3 linked regions of the Homo sapiens genome follow. The protein of the gene in region 1 interacts with the protein of each later gene in a pairwise test. Each region holds a gene or a part of one and is shown on either strand. Other genes may lie near its edges.

Region 1 (11,212 bases):
GTCTTTTCATTTCTTTTGTCCTTCTCCTATCTTTGATCTTACTCATGTTACTCCTTCAATTTTATCTCAAATGAGTGGAAAAATAGTGTTAAAATCTTCATACTTTGTGAACAAGATCAGGAAGCTCATGGAAATTCTGCCAAAAATCAAGCTATTTTGTATCCTGCTCCCACATTACCAAGGAACACAAGGTGAAGATTAATTGCCATTGCAATGTGGAGACATGTTAAGTGGTAAAAATACCAAAAAAAACTATTATTTGTATTAGAAAGCAATTTTGCCACGGAAAATGGAAACCCAAAAAAATTAAAAGGAATTATAACTGTTACATAAGTTTTAAAAATTTAGCAGGTCAAAGAGGTCAGTTCAGAATAAAAGAATTCTTGGTATTTTAGGGGTGGGAAGTAAAGAAGGGGTAGGAAGAGGGGAAGGGAAGCAAAGAACAATAAGTTCTACAGATTTCAATTTTTCTTTGTTTTTTCCAATAACCACAAAACAGGACCTCTTAGAATTAGGAAAAACTACCAAAATTCTTTTAAGTATGCTAAATCTAACCACGCTAGAATAAAACCATAGATAATGCAGATCTTAAGTAGTTTTATGAAGGAGGTACAGCAATATAATAAAATGCCACTGATCTGGACTCCCTAATTCCATAAGACTATGAGCTCCAGAAGGGAGAAAGAAAACTTTTGGTGGTTTGATCACTGCTGTTTTCCCAGTGTCTGAAATTGAACAGTGATCAATATACAACAGGTGTTCAGTAAATAGTTGTTGACTAAATTACCTCCTCTTTCAAGTGATCGGTTTTTCAATACATAAAAGGAAAAATATCCTTGTTACTTTTGCGGTTGATTTATTGTGTGGTTATTCTATAATTATTTATGCATTGCTTAACTTTGAAAAAGAATTTAAAGCAATACAAAATATTATTTTGTATTTTCTTCAGTCCCCTTCAAAGTTTTATTCAGATTTATAATAATATTTGTACGTCTTCAGCCTTCTTAAACTTTACTAAGAGAATAACCTGAATAAAAACACAAAAAGTGTTTTGATGTAACCATTTCTCACTCCCTGATCATCTCTTTGTCATGCAACAATTTCACTTGCAGCATGAAGATAATAATTATGTCACATTTAATTCTGAAGAGGAGGAAGTTCCTTATTTCCTAGTATATAATTGCTAATAAAATTCTCCCAAAGTCAAGCTGCTCTTACAGCTTCTCAGACAGCTGGTCATTCAATGATGTTCTTTGTTGTATAATTTCTTAATTTCCAGAGGATTTATTTTCCCTTTCTCCTCCTTAGACAATTTTATAGCTCAGCACAATGTAAGTACTGTGCTATAGTACTTGAAGGCAATACAATTGTTCTTTTAAAATATTTGATAACTAGAATGCTTCACTAATATTAGCAAACCTACATGATTTATTTCATCAGAATTAACAAGATTTCCATCTCTCTGCAAAGTACTATCCTTCACTGTCTCAACTAGATAGGCAGTCCTTAAGACAAATAACTACTGTGTAACTTTCTAAAATAAGGTAGCTGAGTTCATTTCCATTGTTACTATTCACTGCTATTGCTAAGGCAGCAAGTTAGGGACTGAGATACATTATCCTTTCTCTGATAGATGAACAGGGAAAAAAATCCTAAGATGTCAGCAGGGGAAAGATGAATTCTTTACCTCCCAAATCCACGAAGATGATGAGAACCTTTGGTGTCATGATAATTTTGATTCAGCTATGTTGTAGAGTTTTCTGTGAATCATCTTGTAATTTTAACTTTTTTTAAAAAGTAAGAAAGTGTTCTAAACTGACTGAAAATTAGTTTCTTATACAATACATTTTTGTTTCTGAATTGCCAGCTGCAAAAGCCTGATGGAATCAAGTATATCACAATATCCTATAAACTCATAAATAAAATTAAATTGAATTCTGGAATTAATAATAGAACCTTCTTATATTTTGGGTTTTAATAAAAACAAGAGAATAACTTGTCTTCTCACAAAAACATATATTTTAATCTCATTACTTACTACTTATTGACCACCTCCATAATAAGATAACTAACGCCTAAAATGAACAATTCAACAAAGATCAAATGTAAAATTATGACTGGTGAGCCTAAATCCATTACATTTATATTTCATCTGGGTATCCTGCGTGGGACATAAGAGGAGTAACAATATAATCTGCCCAATATTATCAAATTAATAGGTTAGGACAATTCCCATATAGTATTTGTGGCTTCTGATTTTCATCAGATACACACAAATATTTAGCAATGTAGTTTCAACAAACTACCACAACTACTTTCAAATATTCACTAAAATATGAAAGAAAAAAAAAAACTTACTGTCTCGGAGCGTTTCCCAAGCCCACTGGTCATTTTTGAAGAAGAGATGTCGTTTGATTTCTTCTACACCATTTCGCCCTAACCTCACTTCCCTGAATAATGACAGAAGGAGAAAAGTAATCAATCATTTAAGATCTTATTATAACCTGTCCAGGTTTATTTGTGGGCAGGATATTAAATCAGTGTAGGACGACAAATATAGTTCTAAGGTGAAATTATATTGTCAGCATAGTATCAGCCCAAATAGAAAATATGTTAAAGATTGAGAACATTAAAGAATTTTTTTAAAAGAAAACTAAAGAAAGGCTGGACATGGTGGCTCATGCCTATAATCCCAGCACTTTGGGAGGCTCAGGTGGGGTGGATCACCTGAGGTCAGGAGTTCGAGACCAGCCCAGCCAACACTGTGAAACCCCATCTCTACTAAAAATATAAAACTAGCGGGTGTACTGGAACACGCCTGTAGTCCCAGCTACTTGGGAGGCTGAGACAGGAGAATCGCTTGAACCCGGGAGGCAGAGGCTACAGTGAGCTGAGATTGCGCCACCGCACTCCAGCCTGGATGAAACACAGCGAGACTCCGTCTCAAAAAAAAGAAAACTAAAGAATAACTACAAAAAACACCCATGACTTTTCTACTGACAACAAAAATCCAGATTAATCACCACCTTACTTCATTAGCAAAATGAATAAAGCACCATGCATTTTCTTGACAGTTTTTTGTGTGTGTGTGTTATTTTTTTCTTACAATGGTAAAGTTAGGCTTTTTTTTCCCCAACCAAAACTTTACTTAGGCAGCAATACCAGATGCTACCAAAAACCTCCAGAAACACATTTAAAATTTTGAACTTCCAATTTATAATCTATTAATTATTTCTGACCATTCAAAAGCCAATGACTACTAATTCTTGATACTGCCACAGAATTCAGAGCTTTCACTGGACAAGTTACTGATACCAGCCTCTTTTTTGGTGAGCAAAAAGTTTTTAAAAATGTGATTTTAGCTGAATTGGAAAAAGAAAGTTAGCACCTTTTTTCCCTAGTACAGTGCTTATAAATAAAGAAAATACTCTAAATTCTAAGTTTTTGCATAAGCTAAAAGATAAGTTGGCTTAGACATGTGACAATTTTTCCAAGAAGCTTTCACTAACTCTCAAACTGGATTAGAAAACCTCTCCATGGTTCTCCGGCACATGGTACTTATCTCATGGTAATTAGCTGTGTGTACTATAAATGTCTGATTTGCTTATCTAATTCCCCCAAAGGACTATGAGGTATTTGAGAAAAGTGGCTCTGTATCTTCCTCACTACTATATCCCTAGCACCTAATAAACAGCATAATACAATGCTTTATATTAAAATGTAAAAATTGGCCAGGTGCGGTGGCTCACACCTGTAATCCCAGCACTTTGGGAGGCCAACGCAGGCAGATCATGAGGTCAGGAGTTCAAGACCAGCCTGGCCAACATAGTGAAACCCTCTCTATCAAAAATACAAAAATTAGCCAGGCATGGTGACAGGAACCTGTAGTCACAGCTACTTGGGAGGCTGAGGCAGGAGAATCACTTGAATCCGGGAGGTGGAGGTTGCAGTGAGCCGAGATCATGCCACTGCACTCCAGCCTGGGCAACAGAGTGAGACTCTGTCTCAATCAATCAATCAATCAATGTAAAAATTAGCCAGGCATGGGTGGCTCAGGCCTGTAATCCCAGCACTTTGGGAAGCTGAAGTGGGAGGATCACTTGATCCCAGGAGTTTGAAACCAGCCTGGGCAACAGAGCAAAACCCTGTCTCTATTTAAAAAAAAAAAAAAAAAAAAAAAGTAAACATTTGAAAAACCATACTTCAAGCTCTAAAGGACATAATGAAGGGAGACAAGTTAAAGCAAATCTCAACTTGAAACATATTTAAAAGTACTAGGTCTCCCTAATATTTAACAATATACAATCATAAACATTAAATATAATCTTACTAATACATCTGGTTCACTTTCAAATTTCAAAAGTAAACCACAAAGGTATATATAATATGCCATTTTTCTTTCAAAAATGCAGACAGACATTATTATTAAAATGCTTGTTGGATCTACAAGATGGAACACCAACTATTATGTCTAGAAGAAAAAAGATAGTATACTTTTAAAAATGGCTTTATACTATTGACTCTTTCAACAACCATATACCATACATCATCAAATCTAAAATGGTTTAAAGTATAAGGTGTATCACCGTTTTTATACCACTATGAAAAAGGATGCTCCCAACTCATACCATTGACTGTGAGATGTACTCTAATTTCAGAGATGTTATGTTAAAAAATTTTTTTAGATTCAGTAAAATACACAGTAATTTTTATAATTAACCAAGTTAAAAATTGAACAATAAAAGAAAAAAGTCATCTAGTTTAGCCATCAGCCAAGACTGTATTATTATCACAATTTCTTAGGTATGATAAGTGAGTTGAGATCTACAAAAGACATCTAGAATATCATAAAATTACATCAGGTTTCACTGTCATTTATATTCTAACAATTTACATGTAGAAGCTCAGATATGGACCTTAAAAATGGAGCAGAAGATGAGAAGTCCTCAGAATTAATACAGGCTCAGTTTTAAAATTATTTACCTGTCAGTAAGGAAGGCACAAATAAGGTTTTTTGCTTCTTTTGATATGTCATTATCATCAGGAAAGGTAAGTGAATTTTTATGGTTCATAATTTTACTGTAAGTTCCAACCAAAGAATCTGCATAAAAAGGTGTATCACCTGAAAAATTGATAAAGAAAACAAAAGCAAAATGAAATACATTTTTAAAAAGTCAGTTTCAAAGGAAGAGTCAAAGTTACCCGTTTAAAAAGATTATTAGGTATGTATTAAACTAAAAACATACACCTAATATATAAAAGAACACATCACAAAGTTGCTCTAAGCCTCTAAATGCTTTTAAAAACACATACGAAGCAGGTTTGGATCATGTTTATTACCCACAAATAAAATCAAGATTGCTTAATATAATAAATATATTAGAAAGAGCCAAGTGGCAAGTTTTGAGATGAACAACTGTAATAGAGAGACATAAAATCTTCCTTACTCACCTACAAGCATTTCGTATAAAAATACCCCAACCGACCACCAGTCACATTCTCTTCCATAATAACCATCACCACCTTGGGATTTTAATACTTCAGGGGAAATATAATCAGGTGTTCCAACCGCTGTATCACATCGTACCATGCCTTCCTAAAAAGCGCGGCAGGTCAAATTTTGAATTAGGATATAAAGTCTCAATTATTTAAAATGACTTTCTTATTAATATTACCTATGGGACTCCAAATCTTTGAGCTATAAAATATCATATATTAAAACTGAATGGAAACCTGACAAAAATTAACACAGCTTAATCATATATATACATACTATATACACACCATATACATATATACCATATAATGTATGTATGTGTATACATGTGAATGCATATACACACACATTATATGTGTATTCACATATATACACACACCAGTGATTATTTTGTAATAATGCTCACTAGAAAAACATACTGCCACATTTATTATTCCCCAAGTTGTGCCAATATCATGAAACCATTTAACTGCTGAGAACAAGTACACAGGCCAGTGCAAATACACTGGGGAGTTCATAGGATAGGGCATTTTACAACATATTGGTATAAACACTGACTTCATTATTTTCTACTAAAATAGCTATTTAACTATGTTTGAAACTACAAAAGAAACATACAAAAGCTGACTGTACAAATACAAACTGGGGAAGCATATGTATGGGAAAAGGGCATAATAGTGTAAAGCACACTGAATGTCTATTTGATGTGAATTTTAACTGCCCTCCCCCAACAAACCTGAGAGACTTGTTAGCTGTTACCTATATTCGCTGGTATTAATGAAACAGCATTATAACTAAATGTTCATACAGAAGTTCTCATGCAGTGTTTCCTTCACTGTGTATATGAAGTGAAGGAATAACATATACACAGCTCCTTCAGCTCCTTCAGCTGTGTATATGTTATTTATTATATAAATAACATATTTATTTATGTTATTTATTATATGTATATACATATACATAATGTATATGTATATACATATACATAATATGTATATACATATACAGCTGTGTATATGTTATTTATTATATAAACAGTGAGGATAGGTATCTTTTAAGACTCACTCCTAAAATAAGCAGTAAAATCTTTTATATGTTAACTGAAGTAAAACACTAAAAAATACACACATTACTGGAATCCAATTTTTATGAAAGTCTAATTTTAACACTGGCATAAGTATTTAGTGACATTTAAGCTAATTCCATTCCTAGTTACCAGTAGTGTATATTAGAGTTGTTATGAAGGATTTAGTAAATCTGGCAATCCATATTTACCCTAAATAGAGAGGAAAAAATAAATCACTAACAAGTTACTAATACAACATTGAAACCATGGTATCTAGTTCAACAAATAAGGTCATATTAATTCTGGACAAGTCCAGCTATGGTTAGTAAATTCTTACACCATTTTCTAAAGAATTCTTAAACCATTTTCTAAAGAAGCATCTACCTTGAATTAGCAAAAACTAAATTAAAATCTAGTTAATTAACCTTATTCATCTTCATACAAGTACCAAAATCTGCTAACTTCAAATGTCCAGATTTATCCAGCAGCATGTTATCAGGCTTCACATCTCTGCAGGAGGGAAAAAATAGTACAGTATTTTCTGAAACAGATTAGACACTGTAAAAATTATATGAGGCAGTTATTTTAGGTCAAGCATCCTCAATCTAGGTAAGGCCATCTTTGATCTGTATGTGTTCTCTATCCACATCTATAAATTAAATTTCATCAAAGAAACTTCTTTATATGTTAATGCCTCAGAAGAAAACATATATATTCCTTTTTTAAAAGTTTCATTCTTTCAGAGGGAAAATCAAATCATTTGAGAGAGACAGACCATCAAAAATACAACACTCAGACATAAAAGGTGATTGAAACATATTAGATAGGTAAGTACATAAAAAAACCCCACGGCAGGGTCTAAGTCACTTTCATTTTTGATCCCTGACATGTAGGCACAGCAACTGCACACAGGATTCAAGCAGTGTTTGTACAACAAATGAAACTATTCGTCTAATGAATAAATACGACCTATTCACTAATTAAAAGCAAATTAAGTTACATATTTAAAAAATTAACATCAAAGTGTTTAACTCCTGGCACATACCTTAGAAAACTAGTTTACAAGTTTTACTTTTCAGAACACCATTTAAAGGCTATATGATCAGATTAAGGGATATTAAAGAATACATTTATATCAACATTAAATTGAAATGCTAAAATTATAAACTTCAAAGTTTGGAGTTCTTTTTTTCCCCCCTTCCTGACATAGAATCTCACTCTGTCACCCAGTCTGAAGTGCAGTGACTAGATCTCAGCTCACTGAAACCTCTGCTCCCAGGCTCAAGCGATCCTCCCACCTTAGCCTCCCAAGGAGCTGGGACCACAGGTGCATGCCACCACACCTGTGTTTTTTTTTTTTTTTTTTGTAGAGATGGGTTTCACCATGTTGTCCAGGCTGGTGTCAAACTCCTGAGCTCAAGAGATCTGCCTGCCTCGGCCTCCCAAAGCTCTGGGATTACAGGCGTGAGGCAGCGCCTGGCCAGAGTCTTGAGTTCTGAAAGGTCACTTATGTCATACGGAAGAAGAATGGGTGAACTGAGAGTAAGAAATGTTAAAGTTATTTTTAGCTATTTCCCTCAACAAATGAGAAAATTTAAAGCACTTTTATCTTTACCTGTGAATAAAACCCATGGAATGGATTGCATCCAATGCAAGAACTACTTCTGCAGTATAGAATCGTGCCCATTTTTCAGGCACATCATAGTTGCTCATTAAGTTTACAAGATCTCCACCAGGCATGTATTCCATCACCATGTAGAGATAACGATCATCTTGGAATGCATAAAAAAGCTATACAAATAGAAAAAACAAACAAAACACATTCATTAATGTTAAACAAAATTGTTTCACTTAAAAAGTGGCAAAAATGTTAATAAAAGATTTAAGTAAAATAATCAAATTACAGAAGTTGCAAGTCTAGTTTTAAAAAAAGACAAACATAAATGCCACAAAGACCCTTGTATATGCAAAATGACTATAACATAATTATTCAGAAGAGTTACATGGAGATATCCTTTCTTCATAATTTTCTACACTATTTGAATTTCTTTTACTGAGAATTTTTTTAAACTGTAATATTTTCAGTAAATATACAAATCTCCTAGGCAAAGAAATACTGTATTTCTAATTTAACTTGTGCATCAGTGGGGTCTACTATTAAATTTATATCAATATCACAATGCTCAAGAAGTCTTTGATAAATTTGGCTTACAGTTTCAGCTGTTTTTTTTTTTTTTTTTTTTTTTTTTTTTGAGACGGAGTCTCGCTCTGTCGCCCAGGCTGGAGTGCAGTGGCGTGATGTCGGCTCACTGCAAGCTCCGCCTCCCAGGTTCACGCCATTCTCCTACCTCAGCCTCCCGAGGAGCTGGGACTACAGGCACCCGCTACCACGCCCGGCTAATTTTTTGCATTTTTAGTAGAGATGGGGTTTCACCGTGTTAGCCAGGATGGTCTCGATCTCCTGACCTCGTGATCCGCCCACCCTGGCCTCCCAAAATGCTGGGATTACAGGCATGAGCCACTGCGCCCGGCCTCAGCTGTTTCTTATTAGCTGTGTGACTAGTAATTTGCTTAACCTACCCGAGTCTATGAGACTATAATCTCTTCTAAAACACTGTAAGGACTATACTTCGTTTAACTTTTATACCTGCTGCTTAGTCAAGTATCCAGATGCCTGGCGGTTAGCAATTGCTTAATAAAGGCTTAATGAACCAAATCATAAACTAATCCATAAAGTAACAGTGCACCTAACAGATTAACTGTCTTTCAGGGTTGAGGGTTGTTAAAAAAGATTACTGAATATAGAAAGCACTTAGTGCAACAGATGCTCAACAAATGACAGCAGTCAGGAGGAGGAGCAGTAATAGCTAACACAGAAGTAGGAGGAAGGCAGCAGCTAGGGTTCAAATAGTAACAGCAAAATCCACTAATGTGAAATTAGCGAGGATATCAGGCATAAATATATTATGTGACTGGGGATCAAATAAAAAGAAGGGCAAATTTATAAAATAACATTTTAAGTAAATACAAGAAGTTTAGAATTAAACTAAAAAAAACAAGCCCTAGAGAAGATGATCTCTAATTTACCCAGATGTTTGTCTTAAAATCTTCTTAATGTTTCATTTTTTTCAACTGTGTTTAATAATTTTAGTTATAGATTCAGTTACTTTGTTTTGATTTTTTGTTTTTTTGTAGAGATTGGGAGCCAGTCTTGAACTCCTGCCCTCAAGTGATCTTCCTGTCTCAGCCTCTCAAAGTGCTCAGATTACAAGCATGGGGGCCACCACACCCGGCCCAGACTCAGTTATTTTAATGTAAAAAATGTATTTTGGGGGAAGAGAGAAGGATAAGAAACAAAGTGGCATTTCATGACTATCCCAGATTAAAGTATATAATTTGTCATTTGGGCCCCATAAAGAAATACTGTTAATTTGGTGACAGTTTCACCCTATTTATAGACAATATATCCAGAGAAATAAAGCTCTGAATACCTAAATTGTAAATAGCCCTGAAAGTAACAATTATGTCACATATTTTTTCACTAACAGACACTGAACGTTCATGTATCAGTGGTTGTTAACTAGTGGTGAAAACATTTTTGGTTGTCACAACTGTGTGTGAGGTGGGAAGAGTCACTACTAGCATCCCCTGTGTAGAGGCCAGGAATGCTGCCAAACATCCTAAATAAACACATTAGTAACTGAAATAATATAAAGGATAGCCCCCAACAACAAAGAATTATCTGGCCCAAAATGTCAATAGTATTAAGCCTGAGAAACTCTGATCTACATAGTTGGTAAAAACATAGACATTTCAAGTTTAAAAGTACTATGGTGACCGGGCACGGTGGCTCACACCTGTAATCCCAGCACTTTGGGAGGCCGAGGCAGGCGGATCACGAGGTCAGGAGATCGAGACCATGCTGGCTAACACAGTGAAACCCGTCTCTACTAAAAATACAAAAAATAATAGCCGGGCGTGGTGGCAGGCACCTGTCGTCCCAGCTACTCGGGAGGCTGAGGCAGGAGAATGGCGTGAACTCAGGGGGCAGAGCTTGCTTGCAGTGAGCCGAGATCGCACCATTGCACTCCGGCCTGGGCGACAGAGCGAGACTCCGTCTCAAAAAAAAAAAAAAAGTGCTATGGCATAAACCTTCAACATTTTTCATATCCTTTTAATTCCAATTACTGGTATGCTTTTTAAGGACAGACTTCATTATATATTATAAATAAATCACAAAAACATGTTAGAAAATTAGAAATGGTCTAGCCCAGTTTAACTTCCCCCGTATGACATTTTGCATTAAGGATCCCAATACATAAGACAGATAAAACATGAAGCTGAACTCATAAAAGCAGAGAGAAAACTCAGAATTATAATCTACCCAAAACCCCACTTGACCCCATGATTTTGCCTAAGGTACCTCCACAATTGAACATAACCAATCAAAGACAACTTTCAGACTTATGAACAAGGAAATTGTGGCCCAGAGATGTTAAGTAACATGGCCACAGCTTCAGAGAAAGGCCTATGGCAATCAAGACGAGGACCTAAAACTACTGACTTCTAGTTTTTCTTTCCACTGAAAACCGAAAGACAAGTATTATTTGGTGACCTAGCTTAACTTGGTTTCCTCTCACTTTCCCTTC
Region 2 (11,212 bases), on another chromosome or scaffold:
TTTTTTTTTTTTATTGGTGATAAGCTTTCTAATGGAGTAATTGTTTAAATCTAGACAGCACATAAAAGAAAATTGTCTCCCTTGGGACATTCTTACACTGTAATCTGTAGTGAAAGGTACTTCTCCCACAGACTTGCCTACAGCTGTGTGGCTTCTGTAATTATGTGTGTATTATGATTGCCTCCTTCGGGATAAGCCTTTTCTGTAAGTTTGGCCTTTATGATATCTCTTAAGCTCTGAATTCCGCTTGAGTTTTTTTTTTTTTTTTTTTTTAAGATACCCAGGCTTTTGTTATGTAACTTTTAAGGAAGGAGCAGACAATTCTCATTTTTGGTTGTCAGAGACTTTGTCAGACTAGGAGAGACCACAAATGATTAGGAATTAATAGAATCTGAGTTGCTTAAGTCCTATTTTAGTATTCTGGTCTTTGAGCTTCCTTTCCACCAAGAAGATTTTGCAAGGGGAGTTCTCCAGGAAAACAGGGAGCCTTAGGGCTATGGATACAAGGATTTAAATCCTTTCAGCTAATGTACAGTACATGGGGTAGGGTGGGGGAGAAGACACACATGCCTTCTGAATCAATCTGAGAAGAGGAAATATATGCCCTCTAACTTCAGATTCCAAAAACTTCAATGTCCTATTGGGCGGTCCTTTCTGACTTAGTACATTTCCCCCTGCTTTTTAGTAGGGTGTTGATGGCTAGAAATAACAAGACAGCAGATTGTATTTTGACTTATTTGGCTGTAAATACTTGGATTTTCAAATGAAAAGGTAGAATTTATGAGGAAGATAACATTTAGTACACTTACACGGAGCTGAAGAACAAAACATTTTATGATACATTTTCCCCAAAATGGAAACTGGGCAAGAGGAAATTTATTAAAAGGGTGCTTTGCTTGTTTTACTCCATTCCATCAGCAGGTCGTAGGGGTCTGAAGAGGAAGCCTGTTCATGAGCTAAAACCAAAAGTGTGTTCAGGTGCAGAGGAGCTAGATTGTGCTAGAGGAACCCAAAGCAGAGGGAGTAGGGACTAGAGTCCTACAGGGGTGTGTGCACAGGTAGTTCTTGATAAGCTGTCAGCAGAAGGGAGGCTGCTGTGAATCGGCAGGGCCACGGGAAGCCACCCAGGTCCAGTGTTTCTTGTGCTTTTTACTCTTTGGATCACTTCAAGCAAAATCTTATGTCATAAAAACAAAAAATTCCGCTGGGGATAGGGTGCTAGATAGCATTTTTTAGGTAGTGGGTACCTCTGAAATTTGGAGGTAACATAGCCTGATTGGTGTTTAGGAGGATGATCTGGCAACAGAAATGGGAGAGTGGAGGGCAGGCAGAATTGAAAAGACAAAGATTAGGTAAGAAGCTAGCACAGTGGACCAAGCCCCCATTATCACCTCTTATCCTCATGGAATTTAGAAGACCATTTCCAATTCCGTAGCCACAGAGTGATGGTTACATAATCAGATGAGATAATGCTATAGGGATATATTTTGTAAATATGTGGTGGTGGTATCATTGTAGTTCCTTCTTAGAAAGTATTTTCTGTGCTCCCACTTACTCCAGGCTTGAGTAAGAACAGCAGACCAGAAGGTGGACAATCTGGGTTCTAGTTTGGACTCTACCACTATGTAATCTTGGGAAAATCACTTAGTCTTCTTGGTTTTCCTCATCAGAAAAATACCCAATTCACTTTAAAATTATTACATATATAGCTTCTCAGTTTTTTTTTTTTTTTTTTTTTTTGATGTGGAGTCTTGCTCTGTCACCCAGGCTGGAGTGTAGTGGTGTGATCTCAGCTCACTGCAACCTCCGCCTCCCAGGTTCAAGCGATTCTCCTACCTTAGCCTCCTGAGTAGCTGGAATTATAGGCGCCCGCCACCACACCTGGCTAATTTTTGTATTTTTAGTAGAGACGGGGGTTTCACCACGTTGGTCGGGCTGGTCTTGAACTCCTGACCTCGTGATCCTCCCGACTTGGCCTCCCAAAGGGCTGGGATTACAGGCGTGAGCCACTGTGCCTGGCCGCTTCTCAGTTTCTAACAGTATTTATCTGGGGGTAAGGACAAGGATAATAGGTGGATACAAGCAAAATAATTATGTTATATGATCCAAGTGAATAGTAGTCAGCTGTGTAAATCCCACCAGTATCCTTTTATCTATGTGTTAGTAACTTTAAGGGAGGAAAAGTAAGACAGGCTATTATTAAAGAAAGAGCCCACTCTTCCATGATATTTAAATATTTATTTAAGTTTAAAAATAATCTTCATGGCACCAATGATTTTATGCTAACTACATACTGCATATGTAGAAAAAAGTACATTGCTTTGAAGGAAAATGTAACTTAAGAGTTTTTGGCACACAGAAGGTTAACAACTATATATTTTTAAATGTATCTAAGAAATTCACATTTGCAGGTAGTTTACCCTCTACTGCTTAAAGATGCAGTATGCTATTCTTTAGTAAGAGTTTTATTTCCTGATAGATGAAGCTATGAAAACCATTGCTTTTTCTACAATGAGATAAACTAATTTTGAGAGAAAATGAGAGACATGTTAGAACACAGTATAACCAGGTTAAAAACTTGAACAATTTTTAAAGGTGGAGATATACCAAAAAAGACTAGTCACCAATCAAAGGAGGTTTATTATTCAAGCACTATTTGAAAAGCAAACTGAAGGAAACTTTTCTATCCATATTTTCTGGGATGAGCCCTGGAAAAAAACAACCCTAAAGTTTCTGTTTACAGAGCAAAATTTAGCTGTTAGAAATGGCATAGACTACTGTACTGTTAGAACTCTAGACACAAGGAACATACTAGGATATGGAATACTGCATCTGTCTCTAATGTGAATATGAAAGGTCAGAGTTGAGGCTATCACTCACTGCATAGAAACACCAGATTCTACAAACTGAGGTAGGAGCACTACACTAAAAGGTAATCTTCTATGTTGCATAAGACAGTAGATACCAGGTGGACACCAGCCCCCTGTCTCCTGACAGCCTTTTCATCTCTGGGTCTACTTTTCACGTTAGTCCTGTGCTAAATAAAGCCTTTGCTATGTAGATGACAAGTGGCAGTGGCTAGTTGATTTTAACTGACCCCTAATCTCTACTAGGATCTCCTTCGGTTTGTATTGTCACTCGATAAATAGATGTTTATAATTCTGCCTAAATTGTTGCTGGTATGAAAATGGTCAGAGAAGCCCTCTTCCCTTCTTAGATTCCAGCTGTGTTTTAGCATTCCAGTATTTGATCTTGCCCATTTGGCATCAGACATCTCTTTGCTGGTTAGTTGTTCAAGCACCCTTTAAACAAGCAACCCTAGTGCCTCCACTGGGAAGAGGTCCCAGATCTTTGATACATGTCAGGCATGGAAACAGAGCTGACTGACCCTCTTCTGCTAACATACTGGTAAGGATCAGTTTTATTGTCTAGAGCAGGATTGGCGTATTATGGCCTGTAGGCTAAATTCAGCTCACTGTTTTCATAAAGTTTTATTGGAACACAGCCATGTTCCTTCATTTACAAATTATCTGTGGCTGTTTTTGTGCTGTGATGGCAGAATTGAGCAGTTGTGACACAGTATGGCGTGCTAAACCAAAATATTTACTGTGTAGCACTTGACATAAGTTGATTGACCTCTGGTCCAGATGAAAGGATGTCTTTAAAATTATGCAAATCTCTCCCTAAGAACCCCAATTATTCCACAGTTGTCATATTGTAAACATGGACATGGTTCTACCATCTCGGGGGACAAAATAGGGGAGGTCAAGTCTACAAGTGACTTGTTCTGTTCTGCGTTTGGGGCTGTCCAATTAGGGTATCAGCAGCTGCTCTACTTTTGTGTGGGTCCAGGAATATGTCCATTGACCACCCTTAAATAAGCCCTCAAGCCCCAGATGACTTAGAAATCTCTCCCTGAGATGAAAACAGGATCTTGTGTGTGATTGGTTTTAGAGTTGAAGAGCTTGGGCCTAGGATCCCACACTCGCCCTTCATATGCCTGTGCTGCGTGCTTCGAGGACTTCCCTCTGCAAGGATGGTGATGCTTTCCTAGAACTTATGCAGAGGATGACCCTAGGGGGCAGCATTTCTACATCTAAGTGTTGGTCTCTGCCACGGTCACATTCTGTGTTTTGTAGGCATCTCTTAGAAATCTATTTTAAAAGATTCTTTTCCTGGTCCCTTCTAAGGCTGTTGATCTTGGAATTCTATTTTCTGAAGCTTTTCATTCTCAGGATCAGTTTCTTTCTTGCATCGTTTAGTTCATCAGGCTCTATTTTCTTAATCCATAAAGTAAAAACAAAATATGAATTGTTAAGAAAATAACATTTCGTTGTTAAAATATAAATTGAAATAGTCTTTGGGTCAAGGGGGTGTATATAAAATAAGCACTGCTATCCAAATCTCAACAGTCTCTCAGGTAACTTAACTCTGCTTTCTCTTAACTACACTTTGTCCAACATTTCTGACAGAACTATCTATCTCTGGTACCACTGAATTCGTTTAACGCCCCTGGAGCACTATAAAAGTCTTGAGGTTCTTCGGAAAAAAAAAATCACGTTAAGTCTAGTTTCATTATACAAAACTATGGTGATGCCCACTAGGCTCTAGACTAAGGGGACAGACTTACCCCACCCCTGATGCTGCTGTTGCTGTAGCGGTGGTCCCTTCAGATGCCCACTCTGCTCAGATTTGAAAAAACAAAAGGAAAAGAAAATCCAACTCAGACCATCATAAGAAGCAACTTTCCATTTAATCATTCTACATGGATGTTTACTTTTTTAAAAGTTCTGGCTGGCAAAAAAAACAAACAAAAAACTAAACAGTCCCCATTGTCCAGATCCCTGGCCTGCCCTGCTGAGGCTGCAGTGATGAGTCTACTGGAACCCAGTGGCACCAGCAGGAAAAGCTCCTGCAGAATACAGAGGACAGCAGCTCTCTAGTTTTCAACTAGTGTCCCCTCTGCTAGGTGATACTACTGCAATAATCAGTAATAGTAAAATAAATTATTTTTATTTGATACTTCAAAATAATATACATCTATGAAAAATCAAAATTCAAAACCAAAAATTATCCTGCAAATTGGAAAGATGAGAAACAGAGTCGCTGAGCCTTTCTTGAAATAACTTCTGAAGAAAATGAGTTTTCCCAGTTTGTTTAGACAGGGCATGAGCCTATCCCTTTCTTCTTCTGGGAAACACCCTCCTAGGCTGCAGTGGACTTTGAGTCATGAGAGGAGGACTTGGTATATGTGCCGATGGTTCCGCGATGGGTCCCATTGCTGGGAATGGGTAGCCGGGTTCCTTGGTCCACCTGGCTAGTTTTTGGGAGGAGTCATGCCTTCTCAGGTGTCAATGAGCAGGCTCACCACTGAGCGGATTTTGCAGGCAAACCATCGCCTGAGGGGACAAAAGTATTGATAGTGGAATTGTTCAAACTCGGGGGTCTGGCGGATATCACGGAAAAAGGCAATGTCAAGGTCAGACTCGGTAAGGATGATCAGGAGGAGGAGCAAAACAAAGAGGAGTCCCATGGTCACAAGGAGCAAACGGAGGACACTTAGAACAAACTTATTCACCTGTTCCTCCTCGGGCCCGCTGTGCCCCTGACACAGGGCCCTCAGCTCTCCCCCAAGGGCCTCCACCTCTGTAGCAGTTGGGGTGCTGGCTTCAGATTCCTTCTCCTCCTCAATGCTGCAGGTGGCTCCATTGATCTGCCGGGAAAGCAACATCAGCTCCAGGCTGTGCTCAGCCACAGGGGTGGGCAGCACGCTGTCTGCAGGGCTGTAGGCCTCGTCTGCAATCACAGCTACTCGCTCATTGCTATCTGTCCGGCTGCTTCTCACGTGAGGCAGGAAGGTGTCCCCATGGGAAGTGGAACGCACTGGTGTGGAATGGGCACTGTCCCGTAAGGACTCTAGGCCTAGAAAGGCAAAAGGAACATGAGTAGGCTGTGTCCCAATGCACCCTTTGCTTTCCAGTAGCACCCATTGTGTTTTATTGGGTACCATTCTGCACACCCACATGACCAGCAGCAGTAGCCACTGCACTCTATTTTGATATATCGAGAAGACGACAGGCCGGGTATGGTGGCTTACACCTGTCATCTCAGCACTTTGGGAGGCCGAGATGGGTGGATCGCTTGAGGTCAGGAGTTCCAGACCAGCCTGGCCAACGTGGTGAAACCCCATCTCAACTAAAAATACAAAAATCAGCCGGGCCTGGTGGCACATGCCTGTAATCCCAGTTACTTGGTGGGCTGAGGCAGGAGAATCGCTTGAACCCGGGAGGCGGAGGTTGCAGTGAGCTGAGATCGCACTATTACACTCCATCCTCGGCAACAGAGTGAGTAAGATTCCATCTTAAAAAAAAGAAAAAGGCTGGGCGTGGTGCCTCATGCCTGTAATCCCAGCACTTTGGGAGGCCAAGGCGGGCGGATCATGAGGTAAGGAGTTCGAGACCAGCCTGGCCAACATGGTGAAACCCCGTCTGTACTAAAAATACAAAAATCAGCCACGTGTGGTGGCGGGCATCTGTAATCCCAGCTACTCAGGAGGGGAGGCAGGAGAACTGCTTGAACTTGGGAGGCAGAGGTTATAGTTAGCAGAGATCGTGCCACTGCACTCCAGCCTGGGTGACAGAGCAAGACTCTGCCTCGGGGCGAGGAGGAAGCCAGGTGTGGTAGTGCATGCCTGTTGTCCCAGCTACTTTGTAGGGGGGCAGATTGCTTGAGCCTGGGAGGTCAAAGCTGCAGTAAACCAAGATCACACCACTGCATTCCAACCTGAGCAACAGAGAAAGACTGTCTCAAAAAAAAAAAAAAAATATATATATATATATATATATATATATATGTATGTATGAAACAAGAGAAGGCACAGAAATCACAGTGGCCATTTTAGAAGAGTTTTTCTTTGCTTTTTGCTTACGGTTTTGGCCTAGTTTGTGTGTGTTTTGAGATGGAGTCTTACTCTGTCGCCCAGGTTGGAATGCAGTGGTGCAATCTCAGCTCACTACAACTTCTGCCTCCCGGGTTCCAGCGATTCTTGTGTCTCAGCCTTCTGAGTAGCTGGGAATACAGGTGTCTGCCACCACACCCAGCTAATTTTTTTATTTTGAGTAGAGACGGGGTTTTGCCATTTTGGCCAGGCTGGTCTAGAACTCCTGGCCTCCCAAAGTGCTGGGATTATAGGTGTGAGCCACCGCACCCAGCCCCTAATTTGTTAAAGATTCTGCCTTTCTTGCCTTTGGTGTCCTGGGCCTAGTTTTTTTTTTTTTTTTTTTTTTTCTTTCAGTCTTTCATATGATTTTATTTTCTTCCTTCAACCATAATAATATGATATCCAAATTTTGTCTTAACTGCTGGGTCTGTAAACACAGGCTTATCCATCACACTTATAGGCAAGGCAAATGCTGCTTCTTGAAATGGTCCCACCATGGACCCTCTGGTCATCCAACCCAAGACGCCCCCTTGCCTGGCTTTATCTTCACTATATTGTGTGGCCACTTCATTGAATCTCATCCCAGACTTTAACTTTTCCATGGCTTCCATGATTTTGCCATGTTTTTCCCATAGAATGTGTCTGACCTTTACTGCATTGCCACCACCTTTGGGACCTTGAGCCTTCTTGTCAGCACTGTCACTCCCAGAGGCTGCACCCCCTTTCCCCGCTTTTCCAGAACCACTTTTTCCTTTGGGCGGCATCTTGGAAGCTTGTTGTTGAACTCTGAACTCTGGGCCTGGTTTTTACCCCAGTTTGAAAGAATCTGAATTCCAAACTACCCCTGATGCAGAGCTGGGACCACGGTTTGAGTCTCAAGTCTGCCTGTTGGGTGGAGGGCTTTAAGAGGCAGGAATGGGCCAGACACGATGGCTCCCATCTGTAATCCCAGCACTTTGGGAGGCCAAGGCAGGTGGATCACTTGAGCCAAAGGGTTCAAGACCAGGCTGGGCAACATAGACACTGTAACTATAAAATTTTTAATAAAAGAGAGGTAGGAATGGGGAGAAGGGGAATATGTCATGCCTAACTGGGTTTCATCAAATACCGAATATCCTTGTAAAAACCCAGCATACAGCATCTTGAGCTTATAAGGTCAATATTTTTGGATTTCTGCAGCTGCTCTCAGTCTCTTCAGCCTCCGTTCTAGCTGTTCTGACTTTGTGGAATGATGGGGTAGAAACTCTCTCTGCTCTTCTTGAGGGGGCATGGGAGTAGTCCCTGGCCAGCTCCCTCTCTTTTCCTCTGAGAAGGAGCTGGGTCTAGAATAGGCTGAAAAGCTCCCCTATCTTTAGACACTTCAGAGCACAAAACAGTTTGAGAAGATCTTGTTGCGGGGGTGGATTTCTCTTACATTTGGTAGGAGGAAGGGGTATTCTATCCCCTAAAACTACCCATTATCTCTTCTCTCTTCCCAAGGTTCTCACAGGACTCAAGCCCTGGCAGGGAAAACAGGAGCTGGTTACACTCTCAACTGAACAGCAGCCACCCAGGCCAGAGGCTTTGGGCATATAGTGAGTGAGCGCGGCCCCCATCACAGTGCTCCCAAGGAAATGGCTTCTTGTTTTAGGCTCAATGTCTGCATTTTCCACTCCTGGCCATCTTGGTGATGCTGGTGTGGTTCTCTCTGCCTTTGTGACCTATGACAAGAAAAGCCAGTCCCCTTCTGTTGCCCTGAAATAGTCCCTGACAATCCCAGACTGAACCAGATTCCCAGCTCAGTAAAGGTTTTACCTAAGTCAGGTTGATTAGGGAGTTTTTTGGTTCAGGGCTAGCTCCAGAAGCCCAAAGGGTCTCTTTTTTCCCCTTCTTCCAGGACATGAAGCAGTCCAAAGGTCTCTCTTAAAAAGGTGTTAGTAACCTTTCAGAAGCAGTGTGTCCCATCTTCCTTGGCTCCCTCATGGCTTGGCCGTTTGCACCCAGGCAGCCTGCCTGACCAGCCTTGTGGAGCCTGTCTTGGCACAGGCACAGTTAAGGATTCTCCAGAGGAATGAGCCCTGGAATCTGGGTTATGAATGAGTAGGACAATGGGGAGAGAGGGTGGGGGCAAAGGCAGGGCACCTGCCATCTAGTTACGCTCCCCATTGCGTCACGGCTCATATATTTGCCACAGCTCTCAATCTCTGCTTTCAGAAGCTCCTCATAGTCTTAGCTGTATTTTTTGTCCCTGTGCTAAAATCTTAAATTTGTATAATGCTTTCATCTTTTTAAAGCACTTTGATTTTATCTTTCAGTAACTCCACAAGGTAGTGAGGGCAAGAGGTTATCTGAAGTCATGTGGTTGGCAGTTAATGGCAAAACCAAGGATAGAATCCAAGCCGCTTTCTAGTTCATGATCCTGCTGATCATATCTATTAAGTCCTCATGTTGTCAACAGGTTCCTGGAAACCATGACTTTAAGCCAAATGATGTTACAGCAGGTCCTCCAATGTTTTCTTCAGCATCATTTTGTTATAATTTTTTTAAAGTTCTTTAGTTTTTTGAGACAGTCTTACTCCATTGCCTAGACTGGAGTGCAGTGGTACAATCACGGCTCACTGCAGCCTCGACCTCCCAGGCTCAGGTGATCCTCCCACCTCAGCCTCCTGAGTAGCTGGGACTACAGGCATGTGCCACCACGCCTAGCTAATTTTCGTATTTTTTGTAGAGACAGGTTTTTGTGCTGGGATTACAGATGTGAGCCACCACGCCCAGCCCCATTTTGTTATAATGTTGATGAGAAAAAAAAAAGTTTAATTGTACATCATTTTGCTTAAAGTTGCAGTTTCTAAAGACCCTGTCAACGCTGTTAAGTGATGACTTAACTGTAGTCGGATTCCATGGAATGGAACCATGGGCCAGGACGGATTAAATCAACAGCCAGCATCTACCTTAGATTTAGGTCTTAATTGCTCGAGAAACTGTTTTGAAATAACCTGAAATTAAGAGTCTCTGTCCCTTGTTCTAGAGCTCTTGCTGTTCCTCTGATCTCTCTTCCACAGTATTCCTCCCTGATGTCCCCATTTGCACATGCAGCTTGAGGAATATGTACCTTGGGACAGGTTATGGGTCACTGATAAAGCAGAAACCTTAAGGCCCTGGTTGCAGCATATTGCTTGCTTGGCTCCTTTCCCAGGCAGTCCTCAGCCCCATTGCATAGGGCGCCTGCCACCCTTTCAAAGGCCTGCCCCTTCATGAAGACAGCTCTGACTGCAGGATCTTTCAAAGTATGAAAAGCTTAGCTTAACCTACGATTACACCCCTCAGCTTGTGGGGAAGGAGAGGCAGATGCTGTGACATCAGAAGAGGAAAATGTCAGAGGACCACCTGGAGCCACATCATACTGGGAGCTGTTGGTGCTCTCATTAAACAAGATAATGGATAGATAGGCATTTCTTTTTTTTTTTCTTTTCTTTTTTTTTTTTTTTTTTGAGATGGAATCTCACTCCATCTCATTGCCCAGGCTGGAGTGCAATGGTGCAATCTCGGCTCACTGCAGCCTCCGACCCCCGGGTTCAAGTGATTCTCCCACCTCAGCCCTGCGAGTAGCTGGGATTACAGGCGCCCACCACCATGCCCGGCTAATTTTTGTATTTTTAGTAGAGATGGGGTTTCGCCATGTTGGCCAGGCTGGTCTGAGCTCCTGACCTCAAGTGATCTGCCCATCTCAGCCTCCCAAAGTGCTGGGATTACAGGCATGAGCCACCACATCCAATTAGATGTGCATTTCTAGTAGAATGCCTGACAAATACAGTTGCTCAGTAAATATCAGTTGGTCTCCTCCCTTAACAGAAGATCTCACCTGTAAGGTGACCCTCCCACATCAGGTTAGTCCTATATTAGAAACTGTTTTCACTGCTGTAAAAGCCACCACCTGTCCTGCCATTTCATCGAACCTGTTATTTTGGGATAGATGGGATGGGTGCCGTGGGAAGGATCTGCGCTAACTGGCACAGCAAAACAGGAGAGCCTTTTTTACCTTGGAAATGCTCCAGCTGATTCCCTTGCCCGGGGGTCACAGCAGTCAGGACCCTACCCTGGAGCCGGGGCCCCATCCTCAGGATGCGCACACTTAGGGGCCGAAAGCAGTGATTAGTCAGCCGGAGCTGGACCCGGACTCTGGTGTGAATCTTAATCAGACTCTTCCCCATGGTGGCCCAGGAAGGCAAATACTTCTTCAGTGGAAACCAGCTGATCTCTTCAGAGAAACCAGCCAGGCAGGGAGAGATACAG
Region 3 (11,212 bases), on another chromosome or scaffold:
CCTCCTGGATTCAAGCAGTTCTCCTGTCTCAGCCTCCTGAGTAGCTGGGATTACAGGTGTGCACCACCACACCCAGCTAATTTTTGTATTTTTAATAGAGACGGGGTTTCATCAAATTGGTCAGGCTGGTCTTGAACTCCTGACCTCAGGTGATCCACCCACCTTGGCCTCCCAAAGTGCTGGGATTACAAGCATGAGCCACCACGCCCAGCCCCTTCCACTCCATTTTTAACATATCAGTTATGCTTTTATTTTGCTAAAATGTTATAATTATCATTTTAATTTATACATTTTTAAATGATATGTGAAATACATACTAATTATATTTTTATGTTAAAGTATGATTTTAAACTGTATTTTATGTAAAAATACTTTCCACTATCCAGATATAATAATTGTAAAAATCTTTTATGAAAAGCCACTTACTCATCTGGTAGATTTTTCAAAGCTACTTCAACTAACTACTGCAAGGACTATGTTTAAAATAACCCAGTAAGAACTACAAAAATGGGACATCTTTTCCAAAACTCAAATTTGCATATTAGCAAATATTTTTCACTGTAAAAAGATACTACATAGACTATAGATAATTAAATATCCACATAGTTTGTGGAAGTTGTATTAGAAAGAGCAACACTGTCTTACTCATTTATTCTTTCATTTATCCAACAAATAGTTATTGACCATGTTCATGGTGCTAAGGCTATAGAAGATAACAAATTCCCTGCTCTCAAAAAATCACAAATATATCATAGGTCACAGAGTGACATGTGCTACATGAAAAAAATAATAAAGCAGGTTAAATACATAGTAAAAGGAAGAAGTGTGCAATTGATATTTTAAATTGAGTGATTAGGGAAGGCTGAATAAAATGAGGCAGCAAGGCGATTAGCAACCTGGGAGGCAGAGTTTTTCCAAGAGTGCAAAGGCTCTGAGGTGAAAGTGGGCTTCAACTGTTCAACAACAGCAAGAAAGCCAGTGCCACTGAAGTGGAGCAAACGAGGCAAAGCGTGGTAGGCAATGAAGTCAATGAAGTCATCGGAAAAGGATTCTGACTGGTAAGTGCCAGTGTTACCCTGGGATTTAAGGCATGTGGTCTCCACTCCTGAATGGAAGAAGGGAAGTTCTACAGAATTCATCTGAGGTAATGCAGGTTGCTGCTGCCCAGAAAATAATGAAGTAGAAATAATGTAGTAAGCAGAAATCGTCAGAATTCACTTATCCAGAGAGGAATATGAAACTCATGGCCCCAAAAGCTCTTCTACTTTTCTACTTCACCCTCTTTCTTCTTAGACCCAGAGTTGGGAGACCCTGGAAGGGACCATACAGACCTCCTGGTTGATCCTTTTCATTTTCTTGAGGAGAAACTGAGGTCCACAGAAGGTGTGAGATTTCATAAAGGTTACCTAGTTCACTAAGGACACAGACCAGGCTCTTCTGAACCCTAGCCCATAGCTTTTCCAACCATATCATTGCTTCCTCTGCCATCACCCCACATCCGTGTTTCTCCTTTCCCTTCTTATTTGTGTGAAACAGGGAAGGAAGGAAGGAATGGAGAGGGGGAGGCAGGAGGGGAGGGAGAGAGGGAGGGAGGAGAAAGAAAAGGAAACTATCTACATTCCATTGCATTTTACTTCTGCATGGCTCTTGATTGTTTTCTCCCCAGTATCAGTGACCCTCACTGGGCCTCAGAATATTACTTTCAACTTCCCACAGTAAATATTTTGTTATTCCCATTATCAAAAATGTAATAACATTTTTTAAATGAGCCAATTGTGTGTTCTCTCTAGCCTGTATACCCACAATCCCAATAGTTATTTTTAATGAAAAAATACCCAATTGTGAAACATAACAAAAGAAATAAAGAAAAAAATAATGAAGAAAGAAGAAAAATAAGGTTAATGGCGTAAAGTAAATTAAGACACAATCTTGTCACACTGTTTTCATTCTAGCCCTGGCAGGCTTTTTCTTATTCACAATTCACACAGCACTTTTTGGATGATAATTTCTTTCATCTCTATCTCTGATTTATTCTTTATTTTGGAGAAGCTCTAATAATATATACATCATAGAGAAATTTTACTTGATATTAGCCATTTCCTTATAGGCGTCTAACAGAGAAATCCTATCTATGCCAGTGAAATATAACTGCAAAGTAACAAAGAATATTTTTTAACAAACATGTCAAATAAGTGTTGCTCTTTCAGTAATTACTTTGGAAGATATATTTTTAGTAATGTTGTGTAACATTTCTTTTGTTTTATTTTTGAGACAGTCTCACTTTGTTGCCCAGCTGAAGTGCAGTGGAGTTATCTCAGCTCGCTGCAATCTCTGCCTCCCGGGTTCAAGTGATTCTCCTGCCTCAGCCTCCCAAGTAGCTGGGACTACAGGCGTGTGCCACCATGCCTGGCTAATTTTTGTATTTTTAGTAAAGACAGGGTTTCGACATGTTGGCCAGGCTGATCTCCAACTCCTGACCTCAAGTGATCCACCCGCCCTGACCTCCCAAAGTGCTGGAATTATAGGCGTGAGCCACTGCATGCAGCCAATGTCGTGTAACATTTCTAGAATTCTTCATTGGCCATATGAGTCATCCCCTTTCAATGGTACTGCAGCATCCATATTTCATAACACATATACACTTTCCATTACTAATCACTTATAATTTCTTGCTTATGTCAGTCTACCAGAGCACCTCCAAAATGAAGACTTTGTCTGGATCATCTTTGTAGATCCTTTGTTAGTTCACCATTAGATTCCATAAAGTTTTTAAAGTGAATATTCAAGTGACAATGACAGAACTCCATATAAAGAAAAAATCGGGGAAAGGAGAGCAGTCTCATTTCCAATGATATACCTGGAAGGAGAAGACCATCTGTTGCAGCAAACGTGTAAGCACAAAATCCCCGATATTGAATTAACAGTTTATCAAAATTTGCTGTTGTTTCTGGGAAAAGCCATTCTAGTTTTCTGAAATCTGCCACATTTACTCTATCTTCTAAAATGAAGGAGAAGAAGAAAAGCTTTAATTCAGTGAGAAGGTTAAATTTCCAAAATAAATCAGCAGTAGCTCATTCTAAACATTACCTTTTTATTGCTTTGTACTTTTCCCGATGGGCAAAAACTTGATATTCACAAAACCAGATTTATGAGGAAGTCTATTCAAGCAAAGAAGTACAAATGACCTCAGTGACATATAACGTCACGTAAGTTTCTGGGGCAAACTTGGAGGTAGGATTTTGCTCCAGAATGAAGAACAGAAAGGAGAGGCCATTTCTGACAAGCATGCTCTGCTGCTGAGAGAAAAGCTGACTGGGGCACTTCCGAAAGTGTGTGGTGCTTCCTGCTGCTGCAGAGTAAATAACCCAAGGAGTTGAGCAGAATAGACTGGCTGCTATGTGACCCAGAAAGAGATATATTGACCTCATTCAATATAGTGTTGTTCTTAATAATATGCTAGGTGGCAAAATATGTTTAATATGATGCTTATAAACTAGGACTATTGCTTCTTGAAACAACAGAGAAGGTTCTGAGCAGAAAGTCAAGAAAATGTTACCTGATTTTGATAACAAGGTGTGTAATTTTTGTTCTTTATATTTTTAAAAATTCTTCCTATGTTGGTTAGCTTACCTATTTACATTTGATAAGCAAACTGAATAAATTTTTACACAAATAATACCACGTATTTATAAAACATTGTTCCTGAAGTTTCTTAGCTTTCACAATCTCACGTACACTTCTGTGCCTGGTTCTAAACCCAAAAAGCAGGCACCACAAACGATCTTGTGGCTACCACTAAAAGTAAATGCATAATTTAGAGAAAATAAATCCTCTCTCTTTTTTCCTGATATGCCTGAAAGCCTCTAACAATGACAATATGTGGCAGGTGTAAATGAAATTCTTTTAGAACAACACTGGCTTGACCAATTCAATGGAGTGGTAATTTAATAGTGTTCTAGTGAATAAAAAGTTCTGACGTATGGTAGAAAATGACACATCTAAATCTAAGAAGTTGCAGGTAAACAGTCTTGCCAATATGGTTAGCTTAATATACACTGTTGGAGATACTTTAACTTTTCAATTTCATTTAATATTTGCTTACATATGCTGCTTTAATGAAATGAAATGAGCAATAAAAAACTTGAACTGAAAGGATATTTTTTAGTTTCTGGTTTAGTTTTCAGTTTTTATGAATTCTAATAGTTTGGGAAATGACTGCTATATTTTTATTTTTCATCTTTAAAAAATAGAATTTGAAAAGAAAATTCATAGAGTAAATTATTAATTTCAGTTTCTGAAAAAACTCTCTTTTTATGCAACATCAACATCTCAAGTCCCAAGCTCTTTTTTGGCATTCCTCATAAATGTTAAAGTATCTTTAGCTAAGATAGAAGGGTCTAAAATGGTTAAAAGTTTATTGATAAAGATTGTTTTTCTGTAAGAATCAATGCATCTTCTAAAGGACCTAAATAAGCTCAATTAATTTTACAGGGATAACATTTATTGGTTTGTAAATTCCCAACTTGAATCTGAGGTAGATATATAACAAATAACATTCTAAAGAAATGGAGCTTTATTTGCAACAAAATAGCAATGATTAATATTCTTTTCTCCAACAAATCAATAATAAAATTACTAGGACTGCAATAGAAACACATCTGCACAAAAAATGATTGTTAACCAAAACATGAACGATAACACTACGAATGGTTATTGCTGGACAGTAAGTTATTCAGTTTACATTTTTTCTGTTTTCCACATCTCCTCTCATAAACATTAGTGCTTTTTTTTTTTTTTTCTTTTTGAGATGGAGTCTCACTCTGTCACCCAGGCTAGAGTGCAATGGCACAATCTTGGCTCACTGCAACCTCTGACCCGCTAGGTTCAAGTGATTCTCCTGCCTTAGCCTCCCCAGTAGCTGGGATTACAGGCGCCCACCACCATGCCCGGCTAATTTTTGTATTTTTAGTAGAGACGGAGTTTTGCCATGTCGAACTCCTGGCCTCAGGTGATCCACCCGCCTCGGCCCCCCAAAGTGCTGGGATTACAGGCGTGAGCCACCACACCCGGCCCTCATTAGTACTTTATAATCAAGAAAAATGTTTAATGCTTTATCAGAAAGATATGAAATTTTTAGAACAAAAGAGTGACTTTATTCTAGAGGTAATTTTAAAAAGAAGAGGAAATAATGGATGATTTTCATTACCCATGTGTTCTTTCATTCTACACACATCAGTTTTCACAGTCGCTCCATTAAGATGACATTGCATCACTCTCTCAGGAAAGTATAGTTCGTGAGCACCCAAGAATGGCTGAATGTGAGTGAATAAATTACTGAGGACACCAACCACAATAGTTTCGTCTTGCAAGCTGGTCCACAGAGTAGAAAGTGCAATGAAGATAGGCTGAGGAAGAGAAAAAAAATATTCAAAATGCAACTGTGTAATAAAATTATAAATCACTGTACTCTTTAAGATAAATACAATTGTCATTTGTAAAGAAGTTAATTCTCCCTAAGCAAAAGTCTTACGAACTTAGACAGTAGACTTTAGATAGACATTTAACTCATAAATTATGAGAAAATAAACTTGCATTTTATTTCAAAGCATTTTATTTTAGTACGATTATTATAAAGTTAGTTTACTTTAAAAAGCCAAACACATGTGATCACCTAAGAAAGATTTATGGACTCTTCACCTCAAAAAACCAAGGGAAAAATGTCTTAAGAAAAAAAAAAAAATACGGCCAGGCACAGTAGCTCACACCTGTAATCCCAGCATTTTGGGAGGCCAAGGTGGGCGGATCACCTGAGGGCAGGAGTTCAAGACCAGCCTGGCCAACATGGCAAAACCCCGTCTCTACTAAAAATACAAAAATTAGCCAGGCGTGGTGGTGGGCACCTACAATCCCAGCTACCCGGGAGGCTGAGGCAGGAGAATCGCTTGAACCCGGGAGGCGGAGGTTGCAGTGAGTTGAGATCAGGCCATTGCACTCCAGCCTGGGCAAAAAGAGCAAAACTACTTCTCAAAAAAAAAAAAAAAAAAAAAAGGAGGGTGGAGCAAGGTGGCAAAATAGAAAGTTCCCCCCACGCACCCTGCAAGGACACCAAGTTAACACCTATTTATACAGAAAAAAACACCTTCATAAGTACCAAAAATCAGATGCTGAAGATGTGTTTAGAGGAGAATGAACACAAAAGTGTCACTGAAGACCATTTTTTGTTTGTTTTCCTGACTGATCATCTAATAAAATATAACAATATTAAGAAAGTAAAAAATAAATTAAAAAGCTAAATATGACTCACTATAATTAGATTTTTTCTGGCCAAATCATTGCAAAAGAACCTGGAAAGTATAGAGATATATCTTGGGCCATGTTTTGTGAGCTGCAAGTTAAATATTTGAGGCCAGTGAGATATGTTTCTTATTCCTATTAAAGGTCACTGACTTATAGAACAAATGAAAAAATCAATAAGGCCCCACATCTAAGTTAAACAATTTAGCCTTTTGTTTCTTGGTTTTTAAACCAAATACTGGGGATGACTGCAGAAAGTTATTACAGCCTCATATCCTCTATAATAATACTACATATAGGCTGGGCGCAGTGGCTCATGCCTGTAATCCCAGAACTTTGGGAGGCCGAGGCGGGCAGATCACGAGGTCAGGAGATCAAGACCATCCTGGCTAACACAGTGAAATCCTGTCCCTACTAAAAATGCAAAAAAAATTAGCTGGGCATGGTGGCGGGCGCCTGTAGTCCCAGCTACTCGGGAGGCTGAGCTAGGAGAATGGCGTGAACCCAGGAGGCGGAGCTTGCAGTGAGCCGAGATTGCACCACTGCACTCCAGCCTGGGCGACAAAGCGAGACTCCGTCTTGAAGTAAATAAATAAATAAATAAAAATAATACTGCACATACATTTTATACCTCCTTATCCAGATAAGGTTTGCCAGGTTTGTCCATAAAATGGTGCAGATAATCAGAAACTCAATGTAAGTGCAGGCCTGGTAAACAAAGTGATTATTATCTGTCTTTTCAGAAAGGTCACAAGTTACATCATCTCTGTACTGGAGGCAATTTCTGACCAGCTACTATGAATACATTTTCAACCACAGTACAATGATTATTTCTGTTGTCACAGCCAATACTGATATGGTTATCATACTATACAGTTGCAGTTCCTTTAGTAGCAGTTGCTTATGTGGGGGAATTCTCTCATCCAACTTATAGCACACTATTACGGCAAAGTAACCATAAAGAACAGGATCAATTTATACAAAACATTATATTTTTAGAAATTAAATATAATTATAATGACTTGCGATCCAATATTATAGGGCTCAAAAGGAAATTCACCTTAAGGTCAAAGTTTATGACAAATACTTACAAAGACTTGTGATGTTGGGACCGCTATCTTTGATTTTATGGTCATTTTTAGTTGTTCCAGATGGGCTCCTAACTGTTTTGTCATCATTTCCACTTCTTGAGCACCAGTAATTATATCTGACTGTGAAAACAACATAATTTGCATTAATATTTTTATAATTCTACTATAAAAATCATATGTGTTTCAGACCATACCTGCTCCCCACATCCTCTGAAAGTAGGCTCAATGACAGCAGGAAGTCTGTTCTCCGCAAGATCCTCAACACCTAGAACAGTACCAGCATATGTATGGGGCTCCCAAGATATTTGTGAGATGGATGAATCTTTTGAAATACAATAGGTATAATTTTTCTTAAATGTATACAGGTATTCTTAGATTTAAATATAATTGCATTCTTGAGAAATGGATCCTCAAGAATCCGTTTTTGTATAGCTGTTATTTTCCTATTCCTCAATGATAAAATTAATTAGGGGTTCCTCTGAAAATTATGTTGATAACAAGATTTAATAAAATCACATTGAGAAAAACCTGTTAGGAGTGAGCCAGCAGGGCACTGCAGGTTGGCAAGCTAGTGAGATCTCACCTGTGATGTATGCCATGTGGTTTAGGGGATGCCAGAATCCTTGTACTGAGCAGGGGATATTCTTGAAGACCCTGTCATAGAGTTCATCATTGAAATGACTCACAAGGCAATGTGAATTGGAAGATGAGGTTGAGTACAAGTTTACAATATTGTTTTCTTGATTTGAAGGGACCTAAGGAAGTTTGCTAGGGTTAAAGACTTGATTACTATGAATGCAGAACTGAAATGAACTGGAAAACCATTTGACGAAGTAAACTATGGATCTTGACACCTTTTGTACTTTCTGAAACTTCATTATCGTCTGGGGGAAGTACATATATTAACTGTATATTTTCTATAGTAAGGTCCTGATAGATATCAAGCCATGTAACTGAAAGATGGAGAAACACAAAGTTTTCAGTTTTTATTTTCATGCCTTCAATTTTACGGTGATCTTTGAGCCTTTAATCGCCTGTCTTTACATAATAAGCATACTTGAAATACTTCTTGGGTTTCAATGATCACACATAATAAGTTAAAGTACCTTGTAAACCATTTATTTCCTTCTGACTTTTGACTATCTAAAGGATGAAGTAGTATTTATATGTTAGCTATATTTGTGCCATTGTAAGCTATACTGTAGCTATTTATTATGCAAGATCTAAAAGATATATTTGACTTTATGATAACTAAGACATGCTTCATGTATCCTAAAGTTTTTGGACAACAGTAAACTGAAAGGTTATTAAAGGTAGTGAACTGGTTTGTGATCCTTCTAAGGAGATGATATAGAAAAATACGGTTCTTTGTAAGAATTTGTATCTGTCTTAAAAGAAAATTTGTCTTAATATTCTTTTCTTCTTATAACAAGAGTGATTATTTTTCAAGAAACTAAAAGTTTCACGTGAATGCTTGTTGGAAGGCATTTTTGATTTAAAACCTTCTGAGGCTTATAAAATACTATCTGTTAAGTTTTAGGAGAATTCATTTTCCCATATCAGATTAAATCTTCTCAGAATAAATGCTTTCAGTAGCAAGAACAGTTTTAAAAGTTGATGACAGGATAAGCATTTGGGATAGTATTCTATTAACATATTTCTAAGTACTTGTTCACTGTGGAAATGTGTACTTGATTAAAACATATATGGCTATGGAATCTGCTTTTGCAGTTCAGGATATACAGGTTTGTGTGTATTTAGCTTATTGTAAAGCCCTTACCTTAAAATAAGGATTAAAATTACATTTAAATAGATCACTGAATGTTACTCTTTGTGAAACTGAACTTTTTGTATGACACAAACATTATAAATCAACACTTGGGAAACTTTAACTTTCTTAATCTATTGATACAAGGAATAAAGTATGAAAAATTAAACAGAAAAAAGTCGCATTGAAGAATGCAGAAAATCTTAAAAGTCAGAGCATTGAAAGAAAAACAATATATTTGATACAACAATCATGGTCTGAAAATAAGTTGCTAAACACTGAATTTGAAATAATTATATTTGGCCAGGCACGGTGGCTCACGCCTGTAATCCCAGCACTTTGGGAGGCTGAGGTAGGCGGATCATGAGGTCAGGAGATCGAGACCATCCTGGCTAACACGGTGAAACCCCATCTCCACTAAAAATAAAAAAATTAGCTGGGCGTGGTGGCACCTGCCTATGTCCCAGCTACTCGGGAGGCTGAGGCAGGAGAATCACTTGAACTCGGGAGGCGGAGGTTGCAGTGAGCCAAGATCGAGCCACTGCACTCCAGCTTGGGCAACAGAGCGAGACTCTGTCCCAAAAAAATAAAAAAAAATAATTATATTTATTCTTACTATGTGCTAAGCACCACATTAAATACTTACAAATACAAAAAGGGATAAGTACAAATGAGAAAATCAAAGAATAGTAAGGTAAGTAAATTGTCTAAGTATATGCAGCTAATAAGGGGTAGCAATCTTGGTGGATCCCAAACCATCTGAGCCCACAGCCCAGCTCTTAACCATTATACTGTGTTGCCCAAGATGTCACCAGAAATGGTTGTGGTGTGGGTTTATCAGTATAGCATAAAAGAATGACATCTATTTGAAGAGAAAAAGGTGCATCTGAATTCTCAGACATCTGTATGTAGCCTAATTATATGCTTTCTAGACTCTTTTAAATGACAAAAATAATTACTTCATGAGTACTATCAACTATTATCATTGTATTACAACTAACAAATTTTTATTCATAAATGTAACGTGTATCCTGTTTAATTTTACCCATACTGCTGTTTAAGCTTTACTCCTCCTCCTGCTTTATTCCTCCATACACTATTATCTATTATATCAAATAGGTCTCTTGTCTACCCTCATAGAGTTTTTTCCCCCTTGCTTGTTAAGTTTTGTTTTAGGAATCAATACGAAAATGCAGTCTTTAAAGTCTTTTAAGATTTATGCAACAGCAACAAGAAACAGGAATACATTTGCATACGTTCTCCAAAATAAAAGTTGCATTCGACATGCAATACTTATTAAAACCTACAATTAAAAATATCCTAAGGCTGGGCCGGGCGCGGTGGCTCACGCCTGTAATCCCAGCACTTTGGGAGGCGGAGGCGGGTGGATCACGAGGTCAAGAGATAAGAGACCTTCCTAGCTAACACGGTGAAACCCCATCTCTACTAAGAGTACAAAAAATTAGCCGGACGTGGTGGCGGGCGCCTGTAGTCCCAGCTACTCGAGAGGCTGAGGCAGGAGAATGGCGTGAACCCGGGAGGCGGAGCTTGCAGTGAGCGGAGATCACGCCACTGCACCCCAGCCTGGGCGACAGAGCGAGACTCCGTCTCAAAAAAAAAAAAGAAAAATAAAAAAATAAAAATAAAAAAATATTCTAAGGCTGGGCGCAGTGGCTCACGCCTGTAATCCCAGCACTTTGGGAGGCTGAGGCAGGTGGATCACTTGAGGCCAGGAGTTCGAGACCAGGCTGGCCAAGATGGTGAAACCCCGTCTCTACTAAAAATACAAAAAAATTAGCCAGGCGTGGTGGCGCGTGTCTGTAGTCCCAGCTACCAAGAAGGCTGAGGTAGAAGAATCGCTTGAACCCTGGAGACAGAGGTAAACCGAGATTGCACCACCGCACTCCAGCCTGGGTGACAGAGCGAGACCCTGTCTGAAAAAGAAAAAAAATACTCTAGACCCCTCCCCCAAGCTGTAGTTGCAGGATCCATTCAGAGTAGGCACACAGAGCTTCTTGCTTTTTTTCTAATAATGTCCTAGAAATTACTCTACTTACAT

Evidence for each region.
Region 2: the proteins of ROCK1 (region 1) and FRMD5 interact in binary tests that used the Homo sapiens proteins (3 or more experiments, as listed by UniProt).
Region 3: the proteins of ROCK1 (region 1) and CFAP206 interact in binary tests that used the Homo sapiens proteins (3 or more experiments, as listed by UniProt).

Annotation. Positions count from the first base shown.
Region 1 is NC_000018.10:21,037,114-21,048,325, forward strand, and holds part of ROCK1 (rho-associated protein kinase 1), read right to left. Parts: intron 8,355-11,212; coding exon 8,179-8,354; intron 7,074-8,178; coding exon 6,989-7,073; intron 5,597-6,988; coding exon 5,452-5,596; intron 5,123-5,451; coding exon 4,984-5,122; intron 2,451-4,983; coding exon 2,359-2,450; intron 1-2,358. UniProt on the Homo sapiens protein: Protein kinase which is a key regulator of the actin cytoskeleton and cell polarity.
Region 2 is NC_000015.10:43,868,541-43,879,752, forward strand, and holds the end of FRMD5 (FERM domain-containing protein 5), read right to left. Parts: intron 9,632-11,212; exon of another isoform or gene 7,266-9,631; intron 5,923-7,265; coding exon 5,345-5,922; 3' UTR 4,683-5,344; coding exon of another isoform or gene 4,608-4,682; 3' UTR 4,281-4,607; coding exon of another isoform or gene 4,267-4,280; 3' UTR 2,224-4,266; downstream 1-2,223. UniProt on the Homo sapiens protein: May be involved in regulation of cell migration. May regulate cell-matrix interactions via its interaction with ITGB5 and modifying ITGB5 cytoplasmic tail interactions such as with FERMT2 and TLN1.
Region 3 is NC_000006.12:87,422,819-87,434,030, reverse strand, and holds part of CFAP206 (cilia- and flagella-associated protein 206), read right to left. Parts: intron 8,592-11,212; exon of another isoform or gene 7,975-8,591; intron 7,506-7,974; coding exon 7,386-7,505; intron 5,406-7,385; coding exon 5,207-5,405; intron 2,999-5,206; coding exon 2,858-2,998; intron 1-2,857. UniProt on the Homo sapiens protein: Essential for sperm motility and is involved in the regulation of the beating frequency of motile cilia on the epithelial cells of the respiratory tract. Required for the establishment of radial spokes in sperm flagella.